4 linked regions of the Homo sapiens genome follow. The protein of the gene in region 1 interacts with the protein of each later gene in a pairwise test. Each region holds a gene or a part of one and is shown in the gene's direction. Other genes may lie near its edges.

Region 1 (7,548 bases):
TCTGGATGGCTGAGATTAACAGAGATAAAGCCTGTAGATGATGGAATCTGTTTGCCCTCCATTGTGAGCGTATGGAGGATGAAATGCGAAGGTTTTAAGAAACAAAAGCCACAGAAAGGCCGTGGCGTCCTGGTAGAACATAATTTTTCAAAATTCCTGTTTGTACTTCCTTTAATCCAGTATGCTATTTCATGCTTCCATGTCTTTGCTATTATGTTCACCCATTCTCTACTTGCTTATGCCTACTCATCTTTCAAGACTCTGCTCAGGCATCATCGCCATGAAGGCTCTCTGATGACCTTCTTCTGATGACCTCCTCCTAGTGCCTTCTGGTGATCACCCCTACCCAGTCTCTCATGTTCCTTCACCTCAGCTAAGGGCCTCTCCTTTCTGTGTATACTTCTACCACATTGTGTTGAAATTATTTATTGATGTAGGTGTTTATTCCCCCTCTGGTCTTTAAGCTTCTGGAGAACAGAGACTGTGTCTTGTTTTTGTACACTGAATGCGAAGGACAGTTTCTGGTTCATAGAAGGCCCTCAGAATTTGTTGCATTCAATTAAAATAGTGCTGAAAAAGTACTTTTTATTATGTTTATTGTGATGCATTTTATTTAAATAAATTTTTAAAGTAGGAGATTGGGGCTAGTAATTCTTTGATAAAGCTCAGTAATTTTTTAAGCACTTAAACTGTATAATTGAAAAAGAAAGCTTGGAAAACAAAAATGTTATTGGATATTTTTTGCTAGACTGTCACTTAAAGCCAATTTTAACAAAATTAGATTTAGGGGGTACATGTGCAGGTTTCTTACATAAGTATATTATGTGATGCTGAGGATTGGGCTTCTATTGATCCTGTCACCCAAATAATGAGCATAGTGTCCTATAGGTAGTTTTTCAACCCTTGCCCTCCTCCCACCCTTCCCCATTTTGGGGTCATCAGTGTCTAATTTGGGGGTCACATTAATTCATAACAGTCCATGTGTACCCAGTGTTTAGCTCCCCGTCATAAGTGAGAACATGCGGTATTTGGTTTTCTGTTTCTGTGTTAATTCACTAAGAATAATGGCCTCCAGCTGCATCCATGTTGTTGCAAAGGATATGATTTCATTCTTTTTTGTGTAAAGCCAAATTTTAACTGTTAAATTTACATAAGCAGATTTCAGGATCGCAATTAGTCCATTAAAATATCCATTGAATATGAGCAGAAATTTGTTTTCTCAGTCAGTAAGATATAGATGATGCCATAAAAATAGCATACGCTTTCAAGTGATACTTTAAAAATACATTGTTATAAACTTTTCATTCATATATAAATGTATATACTTACACTTATTTAGGACTAAAAGATTATTGATTATTGGTAGATCTTTTATCAGACATCCAGTTTTTTTTTTTTATTATTATTTTTAAAGAGATAGTCCTTGCTCTGTTGCCCAGGCTACCACAAACTCCTAGGCTCAGACGATCCTCCTGCCTCAACCTTCTGAGTAGCTAGGACTACAGGCATCCACCACCATAACCTGGTAATTTATTGTACAAACCGCCATGACCTGCTGATTTATTATCTTTCATTTTTTGTAGAAATGGGGGTCTCACTATGTTGGTCAGGTTGGTCTTGAATTCTTGGCCACAAGTGATCCTTCCGCCTCAACCTTCCCAAGTGCTGGGATTACAGGAGTGAGCCACTGCACCTGGCCTAGATAGATGTCCAATGATAATTGGCTCATATGTCAAGCTATAGTTCCAGACCATGTATGAGAAGAACTGAGTGATTAACACAGAAACTTGCCTATAGTAGGTGCTCAATAAATGTCTTTTGTCCTAAGGATTCATTAATTATTTTGAAAAGAGACCCTACACATCACAAGGCCATAGAATGTACTCTGCTATTTAGCCTTTATTAAATTTAGCTCCATATTAACTGGTATATTTATGATAATTAGAAATTATAAGGATGAGGCCAGGAGTGGTGGCTCACGCCTGTAATCCTAGCACTTTGGGAGGCTGAGGCGGGCAGATTGCTTGAGCCTGGGACTTCAAGACCAGCCTGGGCAACATGGTAAAACCCTGACTCTACAAAAACTACAAAAATTAGCCAGGTGTGGTAGCACATGCCTGTAGTAACAGCTACTTGGAAGGCTGAGGTAGGAAGATGGCTTGAGCCTGGGAGGTCGAGGCTACCGTGAGCCATGAGCATGCCACTGCACTGACATGAGCATGCCACAGCCTGGGCAACAGAGCAAGACCCTGTCTCAAAAAAAAAAAAAATCATAAGGATGACACCAAGGCCTTTTGGATCACTAAAAAAAAGATGCAATAATGAAACAATAATTATAATTTATTTATAATATATATAGATTGTTTGAAAAGTAATCTGTGTATAACTTTATTAATTAATATTACTATATAACTCATCAAAATACTTTTATCCCTAGTGATTCTGAATGAGGTTATTTTTTCAGTCTAATTGAAATCTGGTTTTTGCATCCAAAATTAAAAGTTTTTTTTTTAATTAAAAAGTTACTTAAAAAATTTAAGGGCTGGGCACAGTGGCTCACACCTGTAATCCCAGCACTTTGGGAGGCCAAGGTGGGAGGATTTCTTGAGGCCAGGAATTTGAGACCAGCCTGGGCAACATGGTGAGGCCCTGTTTCATAAAAAATAATAATAAAATAAAAGTAAATTGGCCTGGTGTGGTGGTGTGCACTTGTCCCAGCTACTTGGGAGGCTGAGGTGGGAGGATGGCTTGACCTGGGAGTTTGAGGCTTCAGTGGGCTGTAATGACGCCACTGCACTCCAGCTTGGGCAACAGAGTGAGAACCCATCTCAACAACAACAACAAAAAATGTAAGTCCAAAGTGGTATACAGTAAATGAAAATAATATGGAATTACCGTATTATATTAAATACCAATACCATATGAAAATATTATGTTAGATATGTGTCCAATCCAGGAGATATTTAAAAACTGGGTACTTGATGGTTACAGGCGCCTGTAGTCCCAGCTACTCGGGAGGCTGAGACAGGAGAACTGGTTGAACCTGGGAGGTGGAGGTTGCAGTGAGCCAAGATCGCGCCACTGCACTCCAGCCTGGGTGACAGTGTGAGACCCCATCTCAAAACAAACAAACAAACAAAAAACTAGGTACTTGGTAATGGATATGAAACAAAGTGCATTACTCTTTACTTATTGTCAGTACTTAAAATCAGCTTACTGAGTGATTTTTTATAACAGTGGAATTGGCAATATGTCACAAATTGTACTTAGTAGTGTTCTTAGAGATGAAATTTTTGGCAGATTAGGTTATTGTGGGTTTACAAAGGAAACTTTTCTTTCTTTCCTTTTTTTTAATAGAGACATAGTCTTGCTATGTTACCCAGGCTGGTCTTGAACTCGTGAGCACAAAAGATTCTCCTGCCTTGGCCTCCCAAAGTGCTAGGATTACAGATGTGAGCCACCAATGCCCAGCCAATGAAGGAAACTTTTAAAATAAGAAATGGAAAACATTTCAATACTGTCACTCATGAAACAGAACAAAACTATTATTTTTCTACTCTGAATTATCTAAGGATTATGCAACTAAGTTTCTTGTTTATTTTGTTGATTAATACACCTATAGCCCCTTCTAGACTGTTATTTTCCAAAGTTTAGGGATCTCTCTCTCTCTCTTTTTTTTTTTTTTTAATTTTTGAGATGAGGTCTCTCTACATTGCAGGCTGGTCTCAAACTCCTGGGCTCAAGCGATCCTCCCACCTCATCCTCTTGAGTAGCTGGGACTAGAGGCATGTGCCACCATGCGTAGCTGGGGATCTTTTTATAATCGGTGGTAACTAGTACCCAACCCAGTCCCCAGCACATAGTAGGCCTGTAGTCATATTTGTTTAATAAATTAATGAATGAGTTGCCTGTGTGTTTGATCATTTGACTCTTTTCTTGCCCAGCTTTTATAGTAAAGGGGGGAAGGAAAATAGAGACATTGAAATTGGTAAATTTTGCTGGCTAATTTGTTAAAGGTACTGTTAAAGGTTTGGTAGAAGAGATTGAAGTATTGGCTAAATCCAATGCGTGAATACGGCCATTTTTCTAATCCATGCCCCCCACAAAATACAATGCCTTCTAACTTTTGGCTTTATTTAATAATTTTGGTACATTTTTTATTTCAGTGAAGCACTGCAGTTTCCACTATAAACCTTTTCTTCACAATAGATGTTTTGATTCTTAAAATTGTTGAACATCACTTAATTTGAATACTCTATCACAGCAACATCAGTTCATTTAAGAAGTAATGTATATTAGAGAGACTATTAATTTACCAGAATATTTGGCACATCAGAACAATTTCCTCTAGGAGTTTGTGGATATGAGAAAAAGATCACTCTCACAAACCTATAACATTTTTATGGATATGGAATTACATCATAACTGATGGAAAATATTGTCCAGTATGAAAACTGGAAGTAACTAATTTTTATAATATATAACAACTAGTCATTTTTGCTGTCATCTACCTCTATCTCTTAGTTAAGAAATCCCTTGACCTAGACTGCTAAAAATCACTAATAGTTGATTTATATGCTTACATACAGTGTAGGCAGTTCCACAAAGGTGCTTCACGGGCTAACTTGATTTAAATTTCATTTGAATTTCACATAAAATTCCAGACTTTAAAGTATTGAAGATGATCAGTGTATAAATTTATCCTCTGACCTCAAAATGAGGCTTTTTTTTCCAAATATTAAAATTTTATAAACATGATGAGTAAAATCATGGTGCTGCTGGTCTTTTTTCTCCTGTGCATATTTTCTCATGTAAAATTATTATTATTATTATTATTATTTTGAGATGGAGTCTCGCTCTTGTTGCCCAGGCTGGAGTGCAGTGGTGCAATCTTGGCTCATTGCAACCTCTGCCTCCCAGGTTCAAGCAATTCTCCTGCCTCAGCCTCCCGAGCAGCTGGGATTACAGGCTCCCGCTACCACGCCCGGCTAATTTTTGTATTTTTAGTAGAGACAGTATTTCACCATGTTGGCCAGGCTGATCTCGAACTCCTGATCTCAGATGATCCGCCCGCCTTGGCATCCCAAAGTGTTGGGATTACAGGCATGAGCCACCACGCTGTAAAAGTTATTTAAGTAAGAATATTATTAACAGTTTGTGACCAGCTGGCCAACATGGTGAAACCTTATCTCTACTAAAAATATGAAAATTAGCTGGGTGTGGTGGCACGTGCCACCACCAGCAAGGCAGGAGAATTGCTTGAACCTGCGAGGCCGAGGTTGCAGTGAGTGGAGATTGCACCACTGCACTCCAACCTGGGTGACAGAGCCAGACTCCGTCTCAAAAAAATAAATAAATAAAAAAGAATATTACTAACTGTCTTATTCCCTGTACTTTATTAAGTGCCTGTAAAGGCTAAGGCTCAGCTGCTTGGGACATGCTTCTGTCACAGTATAGTAATCAACTACTCACTAACAAAGACATGTAACATGTAACCTTACAAGCATTTAAAAGAGTTATTATATACATGTTATATTGTACATATACAATATACATGTTATATTGTACATATACAATATACATGTTATATTGTACATATACAATATACATGTTATATTGTACATATACAATATACATGTTATATTGTACATATACAATATACATGTTATATTGTACATATACAATATACATTGTATATTATAATACATGTTACATCATCATCGTATATTATAAATCTTAAATACTTATAATAAAGTTGGGGCATTTCTTGTTTGATTTTTATGTTCAGAATGAAATAAAATGAATGTTAAATATTTTTGTGATTCAACTTTGAAGCAAAGATTACTTATCATCCTTTCTCAAGTTTCTGGGAGTAGTTTAATTAAAAACTGTTCTGAAATAATAAGGTGAAGCACTCCTGCCTCAGCCTCCTGAGTAGCTGGGATTACAGGCATGTGCCAATACTGCCCGACTAATTTTTCAGATTTGAATTAGTAGGGCTAGGAGACCAGAATGCACAAACAAGTAACAGCTTCTAAGTGTGCCAAGCCAATAGCATAGTATGCACATCTCAATAAAAGGAATTTGGAGATTCTCAAAGGACTCTATAGATATCCATTGCAAACATCAATGACCTAGTATGGACTTAGTTGCCCCAGACCTAAACAACTAGAACATTTTTACACGTAATCCAATTTGGGGAGGGAGATCCAATCTATATAATAGGACAAATAATGACTGAACAAGTTGATATTAGGAATTCATGTAGTGCTTATAGATTTTATAACTACTACTCTACACAATGAGACTTGATGATTACACGATGACCTTGAGGTATTTCACTGTTAGTCTCACATTTCAACAAGAGTTAGGATTAGACACAAAAACAAGACAAAAACTTGTTTTTTTTGCAACAGGACACCGTTTATACCAAAATCTTATGTGGGATCAGATGCAAGTGTAATGTTCCAAATGAGAGATTGGAGAAGGAGCAAGAGACCACTGCTAAGCCTATCTTCCTCTTGCCATAGATCAGCCCTGTGGCAGCCCTCTGCAACCCTGGATTCCATAAAACACATTTTGAAAATGACTGATTTAGACCGTTACATGTTTTTCCTACTAGTAACCCTGTATCTAGACTTGCCTCTTTTAATCTGTTTTGAGGATTGCTGCCAGAATGATCTTCCTAAAACATAAAGTTATTCTCCTACTCAGACACCATTTTAAATATTTTTTGGTTGGACATTTAAGATACTCCACAACACAGCTTCAGTACCTTTCCAGTGGTATCTTCTGTCCTGTAATGTGACTCTGGACTGCTGCTTAGTGTTCCCTGTTCAGGCATTGCTTTCCCTCACTCCCCATTTTTCTAATGCTGTTCTTCCAACTCAACAAGTCCAAAAATGAACTAATTTTCTCTCCAATCCAAACCAACTTCTCCTGACTTCCCAACACTGTTAATAGCACCACAATCATGCCAACTGAAATCCTCACTCATCCATTATGGTCTATCCTAAATGCCATCTCCTTTAGGAAGCCATCCCTCATTCTAAGAGGAATACCTTCCTTTTCTGAAACGTAGTGACATTTTTTGCTGTCTAATGACTTCTAGACTGTAACTCCATTTTATGTTCAAACATGAAGCATTTTTGCATGGTTTTAGTACACTCAAATTTATCTAGGATTGGAATTACCACCTACATTGAGAGAGGATGATTTTTTTTGTTTAGTTTAGAGCTTAGCCACTTTTACCATTATTATTACTGTTTTTCATTTGATCCATGGCTTTATTTCCTTGTTTTTTAAATTTTATTTCCTTGCTTGTTTTTTTTTTTAAATTGATGCAGCATGCATCCTTCTGCATTTAGCTGTTGCATTCATGGTGATTCTACAAATACGTCTATCTACCTTATTCTGTCTTCTGGAATAATTGTGCTGGTGCATTTACATTTTGAAATATAGAATATTATTTACTGTCATTTATTTCACCTTTATATTACAATTGGGACTTTGTTTTTTTGTTTGAGACGGAGTCTTGCTCTGTCACCC
Region 2 (8,106 bases), on another chromosome or scaffold:
GTGAGCGGGGACGGGAGCAGGTGAGCAGGCACGGGAGGAGGTGAGCGGGCACGGGAGGAGGTGAGCGGGGCACGGGAAGAGGTGAGCGGGGCACGGGAGCAGGTGAGCGGGGACGGGAGGAGGTGAGCAGGCACGGGAGGAGGTGAGCGGGGCACGGGAGGAGGTGAGCGGGGACGGGAGGAGGTGAGCGGGGACGGGAGGAGGTGAGCGGGGACGGGAGGAGGTGAGCGGGGCACGGGAGGAGGTGAGCGGGGCACGGGAGGAGGTGAGCGGGGACGGGAGGAGGTGAGCGGGGCACGGGAGGAGGTGAGCGGGGCACGGGAGGAGGTGAGCGGGGACGGGAGGAGGTGAGCGGGGACGGGAGGAGGTGAGCGGGCACGGGAGGAGGTGAGGGGCACGGGAGGAGGTGAGCGGGGCACGGGAGGAGGTGAGCGGGGCACGGGAGCAGGTGAGCGGGCACGGGAGGAGGTGAGCGGGGCACGGGAGGAGGTGAGCGGGGCACGGGAGGAGGTGAGCGGGGACGGGAGGAGGTGAGCGGGGACGGGAGGAGGTGAGTGGGTACAGGCGGTCCGGGGGCCGGGGAGGTGGTCCAGGGGCCCAGGGCCACTGCTGGTCAGCAGGCTTGGCAGTCAGAAAGAAGAGAGGACCCAGGAGTGGGGACAGTGGGACCAGGAGCCCAAGTCCTGGGGACTCTGGGATGGCTGGTGCCTGAGTCTGAGCACAGAGGGGTCCTGGCTCAGGAGGGCCAAAGGGGGTGAGGAAGAGCCAGTCCCGGACGGTGTCCCCAGCGTGCAGTCCTGGGCAGGGACCCTGACCCCTGGGTCTCACTGCACAGGGGCTGTGAAGTCTGGGCCCCTCCACAGTAAGTGCTCCTGAGGGTCTGCTGGGAACATTCTGGGCAAGGGCAGCAAAGCCATCAAGCCACGCCGGGGGCTGGACGGGCGAAGGAAGGCGTGAGGGCTGGGTTCTGAGCGGGGTTCCAGTTCCACCCCAGGGCCTGGACGGGCCGAGGAAGGTGTGAGCGCTGGCTTCTGAGCTGGGTTCTGGGTTCCAGCTCCACCCCTGCTGTGTGGTCTCAGCCACCACAACGCCCTCTCTGAGCCATGTCTCCCGCCAGCAGTGGTGTCTCCTGCTGGGCAGAGATGCTGGGGGCTGGGATGGTCTGCTCCTGGCTGCATGCAGACAAGGGGCAGGAGGGATGGCGGCCCGGGGCTGCACGCGAGAACGCGCCTGGAGGAGAAGGGAGTCTCGAAGAAGGGGGTCTCATCCACACCCAGAAGACGGTGTTGGGGGAAGGAAGTGGAGGAAGGGGACCCCCTGGTTGGAACATATGTTGCCCTGGGGTGGCCTGTGTCTGCGCTTGTGTGTCTTGGGTGCCTGGCGTGTCTGCGTGTGGGCTGTCTCTCCATGAGTACGTGCACGTGTCTGCGGTATTTGGCACACGTGTGTGGCGTGTGCTCGTGCGTGCCTGCATGTGCTGAGTGTGGTGGAGGAGAAAGTCCCCCTAATCAGTCCCCAGGTCTCTGAGGCTGTAACAAGGTCAGCGAGGAACTGAGACTGGCCAGGTGTGTTGTCTCAGCCAACAGCCGGCGTGGCCGCCTCTGGGCATGGTTGATTTCTCAAATAAGATCAGCATCAGATCCTGCAGGAAGACAATCTGATCCAGACAGGTTGCAGATGTTCTAAGATAAAATAACCTTTCTTTAGGAGGAAAGAAAAGAAGAGGGTAGGTTTGCAACCAGATTAAAAAAAGCAGCACCCATCCGGACACGTGGAGAGCTGTTTCCTGTTAAACAATCCTGTTAGTAACCCCCACCCTCTGCAATTTCTTGTTTTGAGGCAACTTCTGGGACAATCTCTCCACATGAAGGGCAGGTTCGAGGACCCTGCATTCAGGGGTGGGGACCGAGCCCCGGACCGGTCCACTGGAGCACACCAGCTGTGTGCTCAGGACGGCCAGGGAGGAGGCCATGGACTCTGGACCTGGCTCAGGGACAAAGGGCTGTCAGAGTGTGGGGGAGAGCACTGGCTCCAGGGGATGTGCCTCAAGGCAGTAGCAGTGGGCCTGGGGTCTGCCGGGAACCTCTGGAGGCCCTGGACAGGTTTCCCTGCTCCCGGTTGGCCTCGTGGCCAGTGTTACTGAAATGGGAGATGGGGACTCTGTGACTGATGGAGATGACACCCTCGAGGCAGATCCAGGACCAGAGAGCAGCCACCAGAGCTGCGTTTCATTCGCTGATCCGCACTTCATTCATCCGCCTGGAGTTTGTTGTCTTAGACTCTGTGTTGGGACCTGTACTGGTGTTAACTCAGGCCTCGGTGGACTCCTGGTCCAGGGTGGATGAGGTCATGGGCAGCACAGCCCTGGACAGTGGAACTGATGTTGTGGACGTGTGGGCCGGGAGCCCAGGGAGGGATGTTGGGTGGCGGTTCAGACTGGGCTGGGCTTTGCAGGGTAGGTAGGGGTCGGGTGGTGGGAGAGGCTGAGGCAGAGGCACTTGGGCCTGAAAAGTATCTGAGTCCTGGATGCCAGGAAGCCACACAGGGCACTTGGGCACAGATATGTCATTGCTGCTCCTAAAATTGATCATGTGTAAGCCTCTGGATAGCCGTGGGGGTCGGCACTAATCAGAGGGTCTCATAGGTAACCCAGTGATGAGGGGATCCAGGCTAACCATTGAATGCAATATTGTCAATAAGAAAGAAAAAAGCAGGTTACAGAACAGAAACCATCTGCACCAACACCTATGGTGCTCCAACCGTGCCAGGCAGGGTCCCGGGCCTGGGCCGCGTGATGAGCCTGGCGTGGGGTCCCGGGCCTGGCCCGCGTGATGAGCCTGGCGTGCAGATACTGAAGAGTCCTCTCAAGTGTGGGAAGGGCTCTGAGAGTTAGGCACCTTTTTTTTTTTTTTGACAATTAAAAGAAATTTGCACATAAAAAAAAAAACCTGGAGGGTTAGATGTGGGGAGGTGATGGGCTGCTTTGGGGTCTGGAAATTTGTTTTTACTCCCTATCTGCATTGTCTAATATTTCAACAAGGAACACGGTTATTATTCCTGCGTGTATGTGTGTGGATCTCATTTCCTGTGTCTGGCCCTGCAGGGAAAGCTGGGAGGGGGAGCCTTGGAAAGATGGCTCCACATGGCCTGCGGGGTCCTTCCATTGTACCTGGGCCTACTGCGGGCTGATCCCTGAGCAGGGGCAGGCAGCGTCCAGACACCAGTGCCACAGGGGAATCGGCTTTTCCTTCTGTGGTTTCTCTCCATTAGAGCAGGCTGCAGTCAGGGCTGTCAGTCAGGAGACAGCAAGCCGGCCGAGGGCTGTGGCTGGAGATCCCAAATCGCCCTGGGCTTCAGAGACTCAAATTCCCAAACTCTGTGATCTTTCTTGGCTCCCTGCGTCCTTTGCTTGGAAGCCATCTGTTATTTTGCCAGGGTGCCGCTATGTGACAGCCAAGGGCTGAACTGGGGTGTTCCAGGTTTAAGCCGGGTACCCCTCAGACAGCCTGGTGGACCTCAGGCCTCACGCCACACTGCAGACGAGCAAACCTCAGGGCGGTGGTGAGGAGCTTTCGGGTGAGGTCAAGGCAGGAAGCGGAGCTTGGTCTGGGGAAAACTGTCCCAGGGCTGCTGGAACCGAGCGGGAGGCACGGCCTGCAGGAGCTGCCTGGGCGCCCGCACCCTTTGCCTGAATTTCGCATCCTTTTCCCATGGAAGTGGTTGGGGACCGAGGATGTGGCCTCCCGGCAGCCTGGAAGGCTGGGCTGAGGAGGACACAGGGCCGGGAAGGCCCAGACTGGTCCCTAGAGAGCGGGACTGGCCTCTGCCCACTGCGGGCTTCAGGGAGGAGGCGCAGAGGCCGGGGAGACAGCAGATGGGGCCCTGCAGGCCTCGCTGCGCCCTGACCTGTTCCTCGCCTCTTTAGCCAACCTCCCGGGAAGGCAGGAGCCGGTCTCCATGGCCTCTCCCGGCCCTGCCAGCCCCGTGGGGCCTCCCCGCCCTGCAGCCGCGCCCGGCGCCATCCCGCCGTCCGACCGCGAGGGGACGCCGCTGGCCGCGTTCCTCCTCCCAGGCCGAGGCTGCCTGTGCTGCCTCCCGCCGGCGGGGCCCTGAGCCTCCTCGCCCTGTCGGCGGCGGTCCCCTCTGACCGCAGGGTCTTCTTCTAGAGTCCTGATCGCCGAGGCTGAGCGGAGGCGCCCGGTCTTCCCGCCTCTTCAGTCTTAATGTCTCCCTCACCCTCGCCCCCCACCCCCGTGGCTTTTGGCGAGGTCCGTGCCCTATTTTTAGGCAGAAATCGGCAAAAAGAGTGGACTGCGAGGTGGTTTCTGTCCCCGCCGACGCCTCCTCTTCCGCTGCTCCCTCCCCCGGGACCGGTGATGGGGAAGGTGGGGGAGTGAGTTCAGGGCGGAGCGGGCCCACCCCCCACGGAACCCAGGCCTGCCCCGCCCCGCCCCGGCCTCGGGGGACTGGTGTGGACCGTGCCCCGCGGACCCCTCGGAATCAGACCGCGATTCAGCCCTCGGCCCCCCGGGACGGTCCTTCCAGCCCCAGACGAGCGCGGCGCCTGCACACAACAGGCGCCCACTAAATGCTTGTTGATGGAGGTGGCGAGTACCCGAAACCAGCGGAGCCTGGAAATGGGATCCTAGAGATCCGGGAAGGGCGCGGGGATCTGGTGCCAAGCTGGGGTCCCCCTTTTGCCTCCCCTAGTGTCTGCCTGGGTCCGAACCCGGGCTCAGGCCCCGCGCAGCTCGGAGCCTCCAGCCCGGAGCCGGTCCCTGGGCCGGGGATGCGCACAGCCGGGGAGGGCGCGCCCGACCTGACCCCAAAGCTATCAGTTGGGGGGGGGGTCCCCGGGGAATTAGAAGCTGTCTCCTCCCGGGCATCTCCGAGGGGCACCCCTGCCTCTGCCCCCTGCCCTCATTTCCCGCCGCGCCCCTCCCCGGCCCCGCCCCCCGGCCGCGCCCCACCCCCTGCAGTCCCCGCGCGGCGGCCGCCCGAGCCACGTGCGCCCGCGCCCGGCAGGCGTTCAGGGAAGCGCGGCCACGCCTGGGCCGGCCACCATTTCCCGGGCGCCGCGGCGGCGCCGACTCGCGGGCAGCGGCCCCTCAGTGCGCCCAGCCGGGCCCCCGAACGCCGGGAGCATGAGCGCGGGCTCGGAGCGCGGGGCGGCGGCAACCCCCGGGGGTTTGCCCGCGCCCTGCGCCTCGAAGGTGGAGCTGCGGCTCAGCTGCCGGCACCTGCTGGACCGCGACCCGCTCACCAAGTCCGACCCCAGCGTGGCGTTGCTGCAGCAGGCGCAGGGCCAGTGGGTGCAGGTAGGGCCGGGGCGTGGGAGGCCGAGAGGCCACCGGGCCGGGGCTGGCGCCGAGCTGGGGATGCGGAGACCAGAGCGGGCGCGCTGAGGCCAGTGGGGCGCAAGGCGGGGCCCCCCGGAGCTGGGGCTCAGCTCGGGGTCAGGGTTGGGGGTTACCAGGTCTGGGGGTGGGGTGTCCAGAGCTGTGGGGAGAGGCTGGGCTGGAGGAGGTGGCGGCGAGCGGGGTTCGGAGGAGAGAGGGGGGTGCCCCGCAGTGAGGGGTGCGGCCCAGGGTTCGGGGAGGGGGCCCCGGGCCAGAGTGAAGCGCCCAGGCATGAGGCGCGGGCAGGGGGCTCGACCAAGAGGCGCAAGGAGATTGAGGGGTGAGGGGCGCCGGCCGACGGGGGGCGGGAGGCTGGGCGGGAGCAGGCCGGCGAGGGAGCGCGCGCTGGGGTGCGGACCTCCAGGCGTCCGGGGCTCCCGCTCCAACGTGGGTCTCAAGCGAACCCGCTGTGATCGCGGTTGGGGTCCGAAGGGGCACGGGGCCGGCGCCAGACGGGCGCTTCCTCGGTCACCATCTCGCGTGAAACGCGTGGCTTCACCTCGAAAGGGCGAGAAACGCATGGCGCGAAGCCGCAGCGGGCGGAGGAGCCGGAACTCGAACCCCAGTCCGCGCGGGGCGCCAGCGCTTTTCCCCGGCGCAGGGGTCTCTCCAGGCTCCAGCGCGGGCCCGGGCGGCTGCTCGGGCGGTGGAAGGGACGCGGTCACCCGGTGGCGTCTCCGGTCATCCACCTTGAGGGTGAAGGGCCTGCCCCGCCCTCACCGCCTGTCCCCAGGGTTCCGGCTGCCCCCGGAGGCCCCGTGCCCGCCCCTCACAGCCTGAGCCCACCCTTCACATCCCGAGCCCACCATCCCCACGGAGGCCTCGTGCCCGCACCCTCAGAGCGTGAGCTGTACGGGTGGCCCATGTTTGCCCTTGGTTTGAGGTGCAGGATTTTTCAGGATTCTGAAATGAGTAGCCTACTGGCCCAGCTGGGTCTTGTCCTTACGGGGCAGTTGGACCAGGGAACTGCATGGGATGGGAGAGGCTGGTGAGCCCATGGTACCCCAGCCAGGAGGGAGGGCCCCCCTGTACCCTACGCCCCCTCCCCACTCAGCTGGTGCTGGGGAGCGGCCTGCACTTTAGGGCTGCCCAGCCCAGGGTGTGAATCTGATCTCGCCCCCGACTCAGCGTGTCATTCTCGTCCTCTGTGAGCCTCACTTTCCCCATCTGTGATCTGAGGGTGGAGCAGACAGTGGTGGCCAGGGGTGACCCCCAGGGTGGCCCTCGGGATTGTGGTCCCATGGACAGAGAGCAGGCAGGAGGTCTTCCCAGGGTATGAGTCCTCCTGAGGTACCTGGGCGTGGGTGAGCGGCAGAGGGGAGATGGAGGTCTGGAGCCCGGGGTGGAAGCCTCTGGAGTGGGGTCGGCTCACAGGTGCACTTGCAGGTGGGCAGAACCGAGGTGGTCCGGAGCAGCCTGCATCCCGTGTTCTCCAAGGTCTTCACGGTGGACTACTACTTCGAGGAGGTGCAGAGGCTGCGCTTTGAGGTGTACGACACGCATGGGCCCAGCGGCTTCAGCTGTCAGGAGGACGATTTCCTGGGGGGCATGGAGTGCACCCTGGGGCAGGTGGGTGCCCCGTCCCCTCGGAGGGAGGAGGACGGTTGGCGTGGGGGCCACAGCCGATTCAAGGCTGATGTACCAGCACCGCAGGGACCCTGCTGGGGTGGCCAACCTGGCTCTGCCCCCTCCTCAGCTCCTCCTGAACAGTCATTATTAGATTAAAATATACATGTAATTTTGAACTGGGTAATACATTCGTATGTTTTAAAGCCTGAAGGTATAAAAGGCTGTGGAGCGCCTCCATCCTGCCCCATCCAGCTGCTGCCAGGTCCCTGGACATTGTCCAGAGAGAGATTTTCACAGGAGCAAACCAGCCTATCACTTTTCCTCTTTTTTCTTTTTTTTCTTTTTCTTTTTTTTTTTTTTTGAGATGTAGTCTCGCTCTGTCACCCAGGCTGGAGTGCAGTGGCGTGATCTCGGCTCACTGCAACCTCCACCTCCTGGGTTCAAGCGATTCTCCTGCCTCAGCCTCCTGAGTAGCTGGGATTACAGGCACCCGCCACCACGCCCGGCTAATTTTTGTATTTTCAGTAGAGACGGGGTTTCACCATGTTGGTCAGGCTGCTCTTGAAATCCTGACCTCGTGATCCGCCTGCCTTGTCCTCCCAAAGTGCTGGGATTACAGGCGTGAGCCACGGTGCCCAGCCCACTTTTCCTCTTTTTTCAAAAATACACAAATTACGTTCCCTGTTCTGCATCCTGCGTTTTCACTTCCACGACGTGCAGCAGCCCCTCCATATCAGCACCTAAAAGTCTCCTGGTGGCCGGCCGTGGTGGCTCACACCTGTGATCCCAGCACTGTGGGAGGCCGAGGCGGGCAGATCACTTGAGGTCAGGAGTTCGAGACCAGCCTGGCCAACATGCTGAAACCTCATCTCTACAAAAAGTACAATAATTAGCCGGGCATGGTGGCATGTGCCTGTAATCCCAGCTACTCTGGAGGCTGAGGCAGGAGAATCGGTTGAACCCGGGAGGCAGAGGTTGCAGTGAGTGGAGATCTCACCACTGCACTCCAGCCTGAGTGACAGATTGAGACTCTGTCTCAAAAAAAAAAAAAAAAAAAGAAGCCTCCTTGTGAGCAGCAGGTCCTACGGTGGCCACTGCTTCCTTGGTGATGCTCTCTGGGTTACGGCCTCCACAGCCA
Region 3 (7,689 bases), on another chromosome or scaffold:
GCAAAGAGTTCTCGAACTAGCATGAAAAAGAGAAATGGTAGTTGCTGGTTACTACATGGTACAGGGATACGCAATGACTATTTGACTGAGGGCCATGAAGGAGTTGCACCTCAGAAGGGTGGCTGTGCTAGAGGACCTTCCAACCCTGGGATTCAATGGGTTTAGAGCTCTGTAAATTAGGAACGGCACTAGCGTGCAGGATGATGGCCACGGCTGACAGATCGCCATGCAACTGCCACGCCCCGCACCCAGTGCCTGCTCTGTTTTATCTGAGCTTCACCCTAAGGTCCTTATCGGTCATCATCTCTGAAAAACTCCAGACTGGAAGGGAGAGCCAAGGTCTCCAGAGAAATTTATAAAACAAGAATAATCTGGGGTTTCAGCTGGGTGTGAGCAGATCAATTGCGGAAGATAATTCAGATTGGCCATACTCTAAACCCTGTCATTATGTGCCACCATGCCCGGCTAATTTTGTATTTTTAGTAGAGACGGGGTTTCTCCATGTTGGTCAGGCTGGTCTTGAACTGCCAACCTCAAGTGACTCGCCCGCCTCGGCCTCCCAAAGTGCTGGGATTACAGGCCTGAGCCACGGCGTCCAGCTCTTGCTTTTAATTTCATTGATAAAATATGTTCTTGCCTCCACATTTACCAGCATCTCTGCCATACTTTCTGAATAGCTGGGACAACAGGCATGCACCACCGCACCCGGCTAATTCTTTGATTTTTAGTAAAGACAAGATCTCCCTATGTTGCCCAGGCTGGTCTCTAACTCCCGGGCTCAAGTGATCCTCCTACCCTGTCCTCCCAAAGTGCTGGGTTTACAGGCTACCACACAGCTGAGATTATCATTTGAATCCATGAGGAAGACTGCCTGAAAAAGTAAATTGTGGATGGGGAGGGAAGGGGAAGATTGCTGGGGATTAAGTGTGGCATTTTGGACACATTCAGTTTGGAGTTGTTCTCTCCTGTTACCAGGGATGAACTCTTTCTTCTGTTTTACCCTAAATTTCCATGTGTGCATTGGATTGCACACCTGCTCATCTACTCAAGAACATTGCTCCAGCATGTAACCCATTTTTTCTCCCCCATATCATCCCTCTTTCCATTCCTTTTGGTTCATGCTGGTGAGCAAACAAACATGTATAGCTTCTAATTAAAAAAAAAAAAAACTGCTTTGACTATATGGTTCCTTCCTGTTTCTACTCCATTTCTTTGTCTTCATCTGATGTTTTTATTCTTTCACTCCAAACAGGCTTTGGTCATCCCCCACTAAAACTCTTCTTACCAAGCTCACCACTGACCTCCATGTGGCCAAGCCCATTCCTCAGTTTTCCGTCCTAATTTTACACACTGTAGCAGCATTTCACAGTTAATTGTTCTTTTTTACAAAAATTTTTTTAATTTGGCTCCTGAAACGTGCTCTCTCTTGGTTTATCTATCTCACTAATCAGAACTTCTCATTCTCTTTTTTTGATTCTTTATCTTCCTAACCTCTGAACTTTGGAGCATGCCAGGACTCAGACTTCAGACATCCCCATTCTGTCTGCACACCATCTATATGCTAAAGAACTCCAAATATATACCACCATCCCAGACTCACCTAACCAACTGCCTTCATGACAACTTGACAACTCCAAACTGAAGGTGTCCAAAATGCCACTCTTAATCCCCAGCAATCTTCACCTTTCCTCCCCATCCACAATTTACTTTTTCAGGCAGTCTTCTCCATGGATTCAAAGGTTAATCTCAGCTGAGCATGGTAACTGATGCCTGTTAACCCAGCACTTTGGGAGGCCAAGGTGGGAGGATCACTTGAGCAGGGGAGGTCGAGGCTGCAGGGAACCATGATCATGCCACTGCACTGCAGCTTGGGCAACAGAGTGAGCTGCTGTCTCAAAAAAATTAAAAATGTCATCAGCAAGCACCCTCACAGACACACCCAGGATAATGTTTTACCAAATATCTGGGCACCCCATGGTCCAATAAATTTGACACATCAAATTAACCATCACAGCTTTCTAACTCGTTGGCCTGTTTTAATCTTTGTCCTTTAATCTGTCCTCAACAAAACGGTAGATTAAAAAAACAACCAGCAACATCATTTAGCTTCTCTGATAAACATTCTTCAGTCTTCCTGTCTCAATCAATGTAAAATGTAAAGACTATCATGACTACCAATGCCCTACATGCTCTACTCCCCACTCCTAGCCCCACCACCATCACTCTTCCTGGACTCTGTTTTGCCCACGCTGATATTTCTCCCAGAAGCCCAGCATGCTCCTGCCTCGGGGCCTTTACATCCACTGATTCCTAGGCTTGAAATGATCTTAATCCCAATAGCTGCATTGTTTCCTCCCTCAATGATTCTCTTATCTTAGATGGCTTTGCAATATACCCATTTTTAAAAATATAACATACCTCATCCCTCTTATTTTACTTTCTTTTAAAATAAACTGTATTTTTTAGAACCGTTTTAGATTTACAGAACAACTGCAAAGGTAGTACAGAATTTCCATAAATTCCATTTCAGATTTCCCTATGATTACCATCTTACATTACATTCCTCACAACTAATTAATCAACCTTGATTCTTATTACTAATGAAAGTCCATGCTTTATTTAGATTTCCTTAGTTTTTCCCCAAGTCCTTTTTCTGTCCCAGGATCCCATCCAGGATACCACATTACATTTAGTTTTCACGTCTCCTGAGTTTCTTCTAGGCTGCGGCAGTTTTTCAGACTTTCCTTATTTTATTTTATTTTTTGTAGAGACAGCATCTGGCTATGTCGGCCAGATCAGGCCTCGAACTCCTGGCCTCAAGCAATCCTCTCGCTTCAGCCTCTCAAAGTGTACGGATTACAGGCGTGAGCCACGTCTGGACTGTACTTTCCTTACTTTTGATAACCTGACAACTTTGAGGAATATTGGTCAGGTATTTTGTAGGATGTTCCACTACTGGAATTTGTTTGATATTTTTCTCATTATGAGACTGAGGTTATGGTTTTCCAGGAGGGAGACCACACATGTAATATGCCACATTCATCACATCATATTGACTACATGCCATCAATGAGTCACGATTGTTGACGTTGGCTTAGAACATCTGGCTGGGGTAGTGTCTGTCGGCTTTCTCCATTGTAAACCTACTGTTTTTCCCTTTCCACATTGTACTATTTTGGAGGAAGTCACTGTGCACAGCCTAGGGTACATGATCTACATAAATTATTTGGAATTATTCTGTATAGGAGATTTGTCTCCTCTCCGCCTTTTATTTATTTATTCAATTATTTATTTATATCAGTGTAGACTCATGGATTTTTTTACTTTGGCTTGTAATCCAATACTACCTTGTTTAGTTTACTTCGTTGCTCAAATGGTTCCATCTTTGGCAACTGGGAGCTTTCAGGTGGTTCCTGTGTCTAAACATTCTGCCATCAAGGCAGGATTCGTTCTTTAGTTTTATTTTTTTTCTTCTCATTCAATTGAGACAGCGTCTCATTCTGTCGCCCAGGCTGGAGTACAGTGGCGCGATCTCGGCTCACTGCATCCTTGACCTCTCAGCCTCAAGTGATCCTCCCACCTTAGCCTCCCGAGCAGCTGGGATCACAGCGTGCGCCACCACGCCCAGTTAATTTTTTTATTTTTTGTAGAGATAGGCTTTCACCACATCGCTCAGGCTGGTCTCAAACTCCTGGGCTCAAGAGATCCTCCCCCTTCGGCCTCCCAAAGTGTTAGGAATACGCGCGTGAGCCACCGCGCCCGGCCCGATTTTTCCTTTTTTGAGTATCACTTCCTTACTTTTCAGCCTCAGCCTTGTTTTTCAAGGTGCTTTACCACCACCTGGCACAATCCACACTTTCTATTTATCCCTCCCCGTTAAAGTGCCGGGACCTGGAGGGTGGGTCTTGGCAGTATTTTTGAGCGCGGTGGGCACACAAGGGGACGCTCAGTTGATATCCAGAGAATGATGAGCCCGGCGGGTGTTGAGGCCGACTGGAGAGAGGTTGGTCGGCAGGGTTCTGGGAAGGCGGTGCTCGGCCTCCGTGTGACCGCAGGCTCCTCGCCCGCGTCCTCGAGGGTCCCAGGGATGCAGGACCTGCCGCAGCTTCCGCAGCCACACCCACGCTCAGAGACGGCTTCCAGCGTCCTCGCCGCGGCAACGCACCGGACTGCAAATGTCACCAGCGCAGCGGGGATTCCCGGGGGAAGTCCAGCGCGCTCCCTGCCCTGGGGACCAGAGGACGAGCGGAGGAAGTGTCTTGGGCGGCAAACATCCCACTCCCCGCGCCGGTCCGCGCAGCCCGCGGGAACGCCCCTGGGCTTGCGGGAGGGGCTGGAGCGCGTCCCCGGCTCCGGGCGGTCCCGAGCGCATGGACTCTGGGTGGGGCGGGAACCCGCGCTCTGTGAGCCGGCTGCCGCCGCGCCCCAGCGCTGTCATCCCGGGGCGGGGCCTGGTCCCCAGCTGTGGTCGCTTCCTAAGCGGCGGGGGCTGAGCCGGCGGCGCCCAGATGCGGCCGCGGCGGCGCGGAGCTCGGGCGGCCGTGGAGGAACTCAGCCTCGGCCGCAGGAGGCGCCGGGAGCGGAGCCGCCGGGAGTCGCGCAACAGGTTTCCTTCTCCATCGCTGCGCCCACAGGGGACGCGCGCCCTGCCGGGAGAGGGGCTTCTCGGTTCGCACTCTCGCTCCCAGTCCAGGTTTGTTTTTCTCTTCCTGAGCCCCCATTTCTCTTCCTGACTATTTTCCCCGTGCGCGGAGAGATCGGGGAGGGCGGGTCGGGGCGGGGGCACTGTCTAGGCTCGGGACCCGCGGCTGTGCCTTAGGTGGGATTTTGGATCTGGCGCAGGTCCTCACGCCGCCTCTGGGCACCTTCGGAAACACAGCATTGGGTTTCTCATATAAAGCAGAATGATTTTTTAAAATTACTTTTAATTTCAGAGGCTGAGGGACTTAGGATTTAGTGCTTCGTAAGAATTATTTTAGGGATACCTGTTGGTAGGCTGCCTTTATAAAGTGTCCACCCAAGACTACTTTTATTTTAAATCGAAAGGCTGGAGTGTTTTTTTATTATCACCTCTTCACTTCCTAGTAGGGTGACTGTGTCAAAAACACCAGAATGGGTACTTCTTGACTTGAACTTGGCGGTGTCACTCAGTAGCCAGGAAAGACGGAGAAATTGATAGAGCCTTCGAGGAGTCCCTTCGAAGCCCACGTAAGACTTTGTTTTAGAAACATGGAGAGAAGTAGTGGCAATGCCTGCGAGAGCCACGCCGTCCTGAGAGGGAATTCTGCCTTTTTCTAGACTCCGCTGACACCAGCTGAGATCTGTATTACTTCCTGTGGTTCTCACGCACTTGTTTCAGCCGTTTCTCAGCAGAGGGAGGAGCTGTTATTTACAGGTATCCAAAAATGAGTCACAGGGCTGCTCTCTTAATTGTGAGACTTTGTTAATGAACTTTTGAAAAGCGAGGCTTGCTTTAAAATGAGACTCTAGATGTGAAATGCCTGCCCTGCCAACCTGGGGCAGTGGTATGGGAAGTGACGATTGAGTTTTCAGTTTCCTAAGGCGCCTGATGTTACAACATGCCAGTAAAGGTCACTGGGCTGATCTAAGATAACCATTGAAATCATGTGCTTTGCCACAGATGCCCAAGAGAAAATTAATTTCATTATTCAATGACCATTTTGCTGTCATTTTCACTGCATGGGAGAAAGGTATCATTTAATGTGGTGATTGTAAGTAACTCTCTAAAATCAAAATATTTCAGACAGTTTGTGTTTACTAAATTGGTGCTAAAACCACATGATGATTTTTGAAGCGGGTGGGTCCCAGCGGGAGCAGAGAAATTTAAAAGTTGAAGCTGACAAGTCCTATTGCGGTGGGTAACAGCCCTTAGGAAGGGACTGCACACTATCTCAACACGGTAGAGAAGGGGACACCATCTCTACTGGAGCTGAGTTGAGCTGAATTCAGCCTCAAACAACAGTTACCAGGTACCTTCTCTGTGCCAGCCTCTTCCCTGAACCTTGCTTGTACAACCATGAATAATAGGATCCTGCCGGCAAGGTACTAGGGTAAATCTATACCCAGAGTGAAGTTTCTGTGCCAATATAACTCAATATGCTGGGTCCCAGTGTATTTAAAGAGTAGACTCAGCAGATTATCACCCCTAGATAATTGCGGTCACGATTAGTTGATAGTGTGACTTTTAAGAAATAGTGTGACTAATTAATAGTTTATTTAAATATGCTGGAAAATTCAATATAATGAGATAGGTGCTAGGGTAAATCTATACCCAGAGAAAAGTTTCTGTCCCAATATGACTGATGTTTCTGAAGATCTGGGATTTGGAATGGACTGGGTCATGGCTGGAAGAGCAAGGAAACTTTTGAGTTTAGTCATTTACTTGTCTTTGTAGGCAGCCTATTCTTCATTTGATACATGATTTAAAAATGTATGAATTTGAAAGGTATGGTTTTTAAAGTGCTTGAATGAACCATGTTTCATGTTATTTAATAACCATGTAAAACGAAATTCAGCTGATTATCACCCCTGGACAATTGCAGTCACCTTTAGTTAACAGCATGACTTTTAGGAAATGGTGTGACTAATTAATAGGTTGTTTTGTTTTGTTTTGTTTTTTGAGACAGAGTCTCACTCTGTTGCCCCAGGCTGGAGTGTGGTGGTGCAATCTTGGCTCACTGCAACCTCCACCTCCTGCGTTTAAGCAATTCTTGTGCTTCAGCGTCCCAAGTAGCTGGGACTACAGACACCCACCACAACACCCGGCTAATTTTTGTATTTTTAGTAGGGACAAGGTTCGGCCCTGTTGGCCAGGCTGGTCTCGAACTGCTGACCTCAGGTGATCTGCTTGCCTTGGCCTCCCAAAGTGCTGGGATTGCAGATGTGAGCCACCATGCCCTGCCTAATAGTTTATACATTGGTAACACTATATTGAAGCGAGTTTATGATCATTGTTTTTGTAGTTCAAATCAATGTTTTTTATCACATTATAGCCGTGTGAGCCAAAATGAATAAATCTACCGTATCACAGTTTACTGTTGCAATTGAAATCTGCTGAGATGCTTTTGAACTGGATGCCCAAGTATCAAGGTTTCCAAGTTTCCCCAGTTTGCTAAGATATCCAACTGGTAAAGGCAACAATGCTAAATTTCAGACAACTTTACCTTAATTTCCAAACTTTATTCCTCCTTTGAGAGCCCTAAAGTTACTTTTTCTATGAGAAAGAAAGGGTCGAGTTTGTCATTCAGCATTGTACTCCCTGAACTTGGCCCAGGCTTGTCTCATGATAAGTGTTAGAAAGTGTTTATTGATGGAATAATGAACCTTCACGTAGGAGGATGAATTGTCAGGCAAGTGGAATTGTCTGCTGTAGGTGACCCAGCAGAAGGAACAGCACCCATAGAGAAGTGAAACAGCACTGGACGTTCAGGAAACTCCAGCCTGTTTAGTGACGGCACAGAGGGAGGCCTACGGAGACAGGAAGGGCCAGATCACAAAGGCCCCATGAGGGTTTAATAGTACTGAAGCCTTTGAACAAGTGAATGATATTGTCAGGTATGTGTTTAAAAAATAATAACAAAACTTGGAATTTTAAAAATCTTAGATTAGATGAGAGTGACATTGACCCTAGGAAGACACCGTGGAAACTGTTGTCATATTGCAGATGGG
Region 4 (7,548 bases), on another chromosome or scaffold:
GCTGGCAAGTTCAGTCTCTGGTGAGGTCTCTTTTCTGGGCTTGTAGATGGTTGCCTTCTCACTTGTGTCATTACATGGTCTTTCCTCTGTGCTCACTTGGAGAGAGGGATCTCTGGTACATCTTCCTTTTCTTATAAGGACATCAGTTCCATTGGATTAAGGCCCCACCCTAATGTATCCTCTTAATCTTTATTACCTATTTATAGAACCTATCTCCAAATATTATCACACTGGGGATAAGACTTCTAAAGACAAATATTGGGGGGTACACAATTCAGTCCATAACAGTTGGGTAGGATTTTCCAGGGATAGCAAGAATAAGAGGTAACAGGTGGGTTCTATGGGAGAAAGTGGAATAATAAAAATTACGAGTTGTGTACTTAATTTCTTAGTTGTAATATGCCCTCTTTTGTCGATACAGTGAAGGGACACTTTTTAAAAATCCAAGCTTTTGGGTAGGAGGATGAAAATCAATTTGTCTTATGATTCTTTGATAATTCCCTTAATATCAACTTCTTGCTTTCCTCCTGTCCCTTTCCAGGAAGTTTCTAAATGACAGCCCTGCTTTCCAAGATACCCCTTGCAATCTAGAGTGCTACCCATGACCTTGAAAAACCTGAAAACAATGACCCTTGTACTTTCTAATCTCCTTTATTACATTTCTGATAGTAGCTTGTGTTCTGGCTCTCCAGGTCTGAGATCTGTTCTCAGTTATTTCCCTGCTTAAGGTGATGTGGCTACCTTTACAGGACATCCACCATAGCGCATGTTTTCTCTTCTGCACCATCCCCATCTGACTCTGCTCCCACATGGTCTCCAGAGAAGTCTCTGCTGCCCTCAGACATTTATTGCACCTCTTACATATCCGTCAAGTTTCTATAAGTCTAAGCCTCTTTATTGTGTTGACAGGTTTGCAGCTACCAGTGATTTTATTTTTTTCTCATTTTTGATCTTTGGAGGTTGGCTTGAGAGAGTGAGATTTAGTCTGTGTTCACGTTCTAAACTATGCAATTTTCAAAGGATACTATTTTATAGCCATAGTCATCTATTTTTGTATTGATTACAAAAAATTACTTTAAGAGACTGATTTATTTGGATATTACAAAACAGACATCTAAATAAGTCTAGCAAATAAATTCAATGTAATTTAAGACTGAAAGATAAACACATTCAAATCTTGAGGGATACTGCAAAGCTTAAAAATAGGTATAACATCAATACATATGTAAGGAAATAGTTGTGTCTGGCATTAGACAATGGCTCTCATATCTCAATTACAGGGAGTGTAGTTGAACCCAGCTGCTACCTTCTGAATATTTGCAAATCAATTACTGGAACATTCACATTGGTTTTAGGTGACTCTTCACTGGCCTGCCAAGTGGCATATAGTGCATTCTTTTGGGAGTTTTCTCCATTGACTAGGTCCATTTAAAAAGTGATTGTCATCTTGGTACAACTTGAGGAAAAAGTAAATACACTATTTTGTATCTGAAGTGGCTGTTGATGTTTTCTTCTTTAGGAAATAAATTTATGACTTTAGACATTTTTGAGTTGAATTTGGAAGTTAATAAATATTTTCTCTAAATGATTTCAGTTCTCCCTCATAACACTAGGTTGTAGGAAAGAGTTTTCTTATGTTATAAAAAAGAAAAATTGAGGCAATCAGTCTAAAAGGAGAATTGGGACTCATCTGTAGGTTATTTTATTAAAAATCCTCTCTGCCTCACTGTGTTCACTACTATAAAATGTAAAACAGCTCTGGCAATAGCAGTAAGAGTTCAGAGCCAATGTACGGAGAAGTCCTTTTCATGTTATGTTATGGTAAGTCTAGTAACTGGATTCTTTTAGAGTGCTGTCTTAATTTTGCTTTGTGTGTAATCATTGTCATTGAAATACAGAAGGGCTTTTTCCTGGAGACTGTCATTATCTGCTTTCTCTTTCACTTAACAGTTATTTATGGAGCACACATACAGTGTGTGTCTGGTGCTGGGCTTATGAGCAAAATGACACAGTCCTGGTTTCATAAAGCTTACATTCCAGTTGTTGTTAATGATTACAATTGTCAGTATCTTTTCAACAATATCAAGCCATGGCAGTTGAAGAATGAGTAAATAGCTATGTTTAGAAAATGATCCAATGTTTTATCCTTCGGAATAATCACAATATTACAGTTTTTACAAGCAACTCAACTGATTCTGATATTCATACTTATTTTTCAGAACCAGTCCGTGTTTGTCCAGTTTCCTTTTATACCATGTTCTCCCCAAATCCTAACATTCCATAACTGCACAGACTCTTCTTGGTCTTGCACTGTTCAAACATTTTTCTTGCTTTCTGTGCTTGGTACACTCTGGGTCTGGCTGTGCTTTTCTGCCTTATTAAACTTCAATTTGCAGCTTAAATATCAATCATTTCCTCAAACAACCTTCTCCTTTTACCTGATTTATTGCAGGCCTTTCTATGACACTCAATTTTTTTTCCTTTGTAAAAAGATGCCCAATGTTACTCATATTCTATTTGTATTTTTAAAGTCATATATTCAGTTCCTCTTTGTTTCTTGATACATAAATAAGCTCAATAAATATTCATTCAGTAAGTGTAGTATTGGATATTTATGTACTTTTTCTCGACGTTTAATAAGAAATTGATGTCATTAAGTGAACAAATATTTTAGTGCTTACTGTACAAAGAATGTACTTTTACATTAAAATTTTCAGAAAACAGGTTTCAGTAATTTCTGCATTATCTGAAATTCATTTAATGCTAGAACACGCTATTGGTTAAAATTCACAGTTGAGTTAGAATTAAAATATTTTAGGAGTTTCTCTTCATCATCAGAAGCAAAGCAATGGAATTCTATTTCCATTTGATAAAATTATTGTAATTTTTATGATAAACTCTGAGAGCTTAAAATATTACCTGACTTTTTATTTATCATTTTAAGGTACATGCAATTAAATGCTTTTTAAGTTAGTGAATTTTCATATGATTCTTGGAAAAGAATGATGTGATAAGAAACAGTTTTACAAAATAAAAACTAAAACTTCTTATAATTTTATAAGACTTTTACTTTTTAATATATGTTATACACATATATTTATCAAATAATTTGTATGTTTTGATAAATCTGCCAATAGTAAAACATCAGAAGGCATTATTTAAGCTTTGTTGTTGCTACTGCTAAAATCATTACTTAAAAAAAATCTTAAGAGTTAAAATTTATTCATTCAGACCATGTATTACTTATTTAAAACCTTGGTTCTACTTGTTATCTGTTATTTAATGTTAAATCAATTTATTTAATTTTAACATTTAAAAGAATACTGCAAGTTCACAAAGACTTGACACAGCATATTTGTCCTTGCCCAAAAATACATTTGCTCTCCTTATATTAATTTTTCATTGCTAAGTTGCTGCCTTCTTGTGGCAACTTTATCATTTTTATTCTGATAAGTGAGGCAATGATAGAAACTTTAAGTATTAATCTTAACAATGAAAGTAATGGCAGGTACTAAATTAAATTGTGATATAATATTTTCACCTCATATTCCCAAACAAGCATCCCAAATGTCAAACTACATCATCTAAAATTTGACCCTTAGTTTATTATATATAATTGGTAAATGAGGTCTAGTGCCAAGAATGTAATTTTGGTTTCCTACATTTTGGAAGCCAGAACATCTCTTAGATTTGGGAACAGAACATTTTCTACAATAATGGTACAATTATATATATATGAAAAAGCAGTTTTTAGGCTTTTATATCATAATTTATTATGATACTATAAAGGATATTGTTGAAATGTAACATTTTTCTAAATGTTGACTAAGTTGTTGGGCTTTTAGAATTTAGCATGTCATAGCAACAGATTTTATAACAGTATAATAATTATAAAGTATGTTGCAATGAAGCCATTATAATCAACAATGTTAAAACAAGTAATTTAGAATTTTTATCCTTTTGAGATATTTTTAAAATGCCTCATACTCTAATCATCCTAAATAGTTTGCAAGGAATTTTGAGTAGTTGACCCTCTTCTGTCCCTACAATACCACAAATATGGTATTTGTGCTATTGTATTTATGGTATTATATGTATGGTATCATACTAATTTTACTAGTAAGAAAACTTAATAAGATAATAAATTTCTTGTCCAGAATTAGACAATGAGTAAATGGTGGGACCAGGATGAGATTCTAATAGATTTTCTACTGTAAAGAGTTACTCTGCTGTATAGATTTATGCAATAAATTACATTGATGTCTCGATATCCATATGCCTAAATATATGAGAGAAACATACATTTAAAAAATTTATATTACCACAGTGTTTCTCCTTTAAGTGTTACATTGCTAGACAAAGTGCTTTCTAATTACTTTGATTAATTTCACTTCTCACAAACCTTGTCAGATTAAATAAGTTGTCTACATTGGGGTAGATGAAGTTACCTGACTAAGCTTATCCAGAGAATAAATGGTGAAGTCACATTAGAATGCATAGCTCAGGACTATAATTTAGAGACAAAAAAGCTACTATTCACTTCTACTTACAATGTCCACAGAAAAATTATAGCAGACGAATATAATTTCATCTCATAATAATAAGCACTTAGATGTAATAAAACTGCAGAAAATAAATACATTTGATATTGCCTCTTTAAAACTTAAAGACATTAAAATAACAAAAACCAAAGGAGATATTAAAATTATCTTAAATCAGAATTTCTAGAGTAGGCTTCTGGTCATTGATAGTAATAAAAATCTCCTCATGTTGATATACCATGCAGCCTTGGTTGAGAACCATGGGAAGAGGGCAGAGGTTGACAAAACTTTAGTGTAAAGGACCACAAAGTAACTATTTTGGGCTTTACTACCTATATGGTCTCTCTCTCAACAGCTTAACTTACCCATTGTGTGTGAAGGCAGTTATAGGCAAAGTGTGAAGAAATGAGCGTGGCCATGTCCCAATACGATTTTATTTGTGGTATAGTTTGAATTTTATATAATTTAATGTTGAAAATGTTTTAATGTAAAATTTTAAAATATAAAATGATAAATTATATATATTTTTTCAATATAAAATTAAATTACTTTTTGCATTACTTTTTGGCAACTGCAAATGTTGCATAGATAGAGAGATAGAGAGATAGAGATAGAGAGATCCATATAGCATCTGTCTATTCCCTAGATAATTGAGTGAATGAATAAATGAAATATATCCAATCAAAATTGCCCATGAAATGATATTGTGTCTTCTCCACTGAGAATGTTTATCAGTTGAGAGTGGAGATTAATGTTCCCAAGAGCAGCAGTTCTTCACTTGACACATATATTTGAAAAATATGGTACATATGGCTGTAGAGATAGTTACATGAACCAAGAGGAAAAGTATATTTATCTACGGTTTGGCCTGATCTTAGGATTTTTGTATTTTTCTCATGTTTTCAAACAAATAGAATTTTCTTTTTAAAATTGTATCAGTGGACATATCCATGAACTTTTCTTAATGGGAGTCTGGTTGTGGGTGGCATTATCTTTTGGCAATTGCAAATGCTGCATGCTGCTTCTTTGTGTTTTCTGTGTGTAGCTAGAGAGATTGCAAGCTGAAAATACCTCGGAGTGGGACAAGAGGGAAATACTTGAAAGAGAAAAGCAGGGACTGGAGAGAGAAAATAGAAGGCTGAAGATCCAGGTGAAAGAAATGGAAGAGCTTTTGGATAAGAAAAATAGATTAAGTGCAAACTCTCAAAGTCCTGATTTCAAGATGTCACAAATTGATCTGCAAGAAAAAAACCAGGTATGGGTGCTCCTTGGAGCAAATTCTCACTGTCTAATCTCACTCTGATGCCTACGCAGAGTCTGTCTTCACTCGTACACGCCTCCACATTTGGATATTTCCTTTTGTGCCAGCTAATACCTGATACTCCTTGCTCTTTTGCCCACTAGGATGTAAAATAACGTTCATGCATCTGAAACAAAGTGTGTCAAATGTTAAAATATGACAAATCTTCAGACAGTTTCAAGATTTCCAAAAGGAAGAAGAAAAATGAAGTAAGAAATAGAACTTTCTGGTTTTTTGTTTCTTATTAAAGCTTTGTCTCAGTATTTTCTAAGCTAATGATCTTATTTCCAATAAAGATTTTTTCATTAATTCAAGCGACTATACAATAAGCATTTGCTGGTAGCTATGGTAAGTATCTGCATAAACATTTAAATTTAGCTGAAACTCACTGCTTTCTGGTTCTTTTTTGTCAGTTTCAGAACGATTATTTTTGAGCTAATGAAATGCATAATTTTTCAAATAATTTTTCCAGCCTGTGGTATAAATCTTAAAACCAGGATAACATTCAGAATTTAAATTTGGGAAATTTAATTTTGGATGTGTTTTATCCCCAAGCCAGTAGATATAGTTTATGCTATAGACGGACATTTTTTTGATAGTTTACAGATTTTTAAATGTGCTTTTAATGGCAGTCTTATAGTTTTAATGTGGGTTCGTGTCAATGTGCTGTAAATTATATTTACCTTGTTTCTATTTTTCAATTATATATAGCATCTTAATGCACAATTCTATTTCTCACTCAGTTTCTTTAACAGTTTTAAAAGGTGAATTTGATAAGTTCATAGTTTTGAGATATTTAAGTCATTCATACTCACATAAGCTCTAAAACCTAAATGGCCAGAAAAATTGAATTCCATATTATTTCATCATTCTTTCATGAATCTAGGGATTTATTGCAAATGCAAGATTAAATTGTATTAGTGTTTCATGACCTAGCAATGCAAATATCTAAAGTTAAATGTTATAGTCCGTGACCATAATTTTCTATTATATTGATTCATAAACTATCCATAATAATGTATTTGATTCTGACATATGTACACTGATAAATCTGTAGACATCTTATTTTGGAGATCTCTACTCTAAAAAGTGCAGAATTATCTCAATTATGGACTGTGGTTTGATTATAGAAATACTTTTTATTTGATTTATTCAAACAAGACAAACATTTATTCGTATTATTCTCTGTGTCAGTCACTGTTCTATATGCAGGTAATGAGAATATTAATCAATGAATCATTATCCCCACCCAGCATGGGCTTAGAGTCTATATAGGGAGTCAAACACACAAATTTTTATAAATAAAACATTATAGTGATTGCTAAGAATAAAGTGGAAGGGGACACAGATTAAGAAGCAATTGATTATATTTGATTTTGGCACCTTTCTAGTTGTATCAAAATGTATTAATATAAAGTATATCTTTCGGGAAAAATTGAGACCTGTTTGGAGCTGGCATTGGCGTAACCTGTCATCAGGGCACACCGAGTCCAGACCTGGTCTCTTTGACAATGTAGTTATTTGGGCTGGGACTAAGCAGAACTTGGAAACTGAGAGGATCCTCAAAGGTCTAAGTCAGTGGGTATGCTGATCACTTAGAAGACTGTAGGATTTTTTAAGTATATATCATTTTGATGGTGAGGGTGGTGGTTGGTGATTTTTATCCTCTTCATTACAAATTCAGACTATCTGCTGGAACTAAAATAA

The links.
Region 2: the proteins of IKZF3 (region 1) and CPNE7 interact in binary tests that used the Homo sapiens proteins (3 or more experiments, as listed by UniProt).
Region 3: the proteins of IKZF3 (region 1) and STX11 interact in binary tests that used the Homo sapiens proteins (3 or more experiments, as listed by UniProt).
Region 4: the proteins of IKZF3 (region 1) and CCDC102B interact in binary tests that used the Homo sapiens proteins (3 or more experiments, as listed by UniProt).

What each region holds. Positions count from the first base shown.
Region 1 is NC_000017.11:39,854,101-39,861,648, reverse strand, and holds part of IKZF3 (zinc finger protein Aiolos), read left to right. Parts: intron 1-7,548. UniProt on the Homo sapiens protein: Transcription factor that plays an important role in the regulation of lymphocyte differentiation. Plays an essential role in regulation of B-cell differentiation, proliferation and maturation to an effector state.
Region 2 is NC_000016.10:89,570,754-89,578,859, forward strand, and holds the start of CPNE7 (copine-7), read left to right. Parts: upstream 1-5,004; 5' UTR 5,005-5,144; coding exon 5,145-5,318; intron 5,319-6,773; coding exon of another isoform or gene 6,774-6,785; coding exon 6,786-6,968; intron 6,969-8,103; coding exon of another isoform or gene 8,104-8,106. UniProt on the Homo sapiens protein: Calcium-dependent phospholipid-binding protein that may play a role in calcium-mediated intracellular processes.
Region 3 is NC_000006.12:144,146,011-144,153,699, forward strand, and holds the start of STX11 (syntaxin-11), read left to right. Parts: upstream 1-4,506; 5' UTR 4,507-4,693; intron 4,694-5,085; exon of another isoform or gene 5,086-5,395; intron 5,396-7,689. UniProt on the Homo sapiens protein: SNARE that acts to regulate protein transport between late endosomes and the trans-Golgi network.
Region 4 is NC_000018.10:68,891,633-68,899,180, forward strand, and holds part of CCDC102B (coiled-coil domain-containing protein 102B), read left to right. Parts: intron 1-5,586; coding exon 5,587-5,796; intron 5,797-7,548. UniProt on the Homo sapiens protein: During interphase, forms fibers at the proximal ends of centrioles to maintain centrosome cohesion. During mitosis, dissociates from the centrosome following phosphorylation to allow centrosome separation. Contributes to CROCC/rootletin filament formation.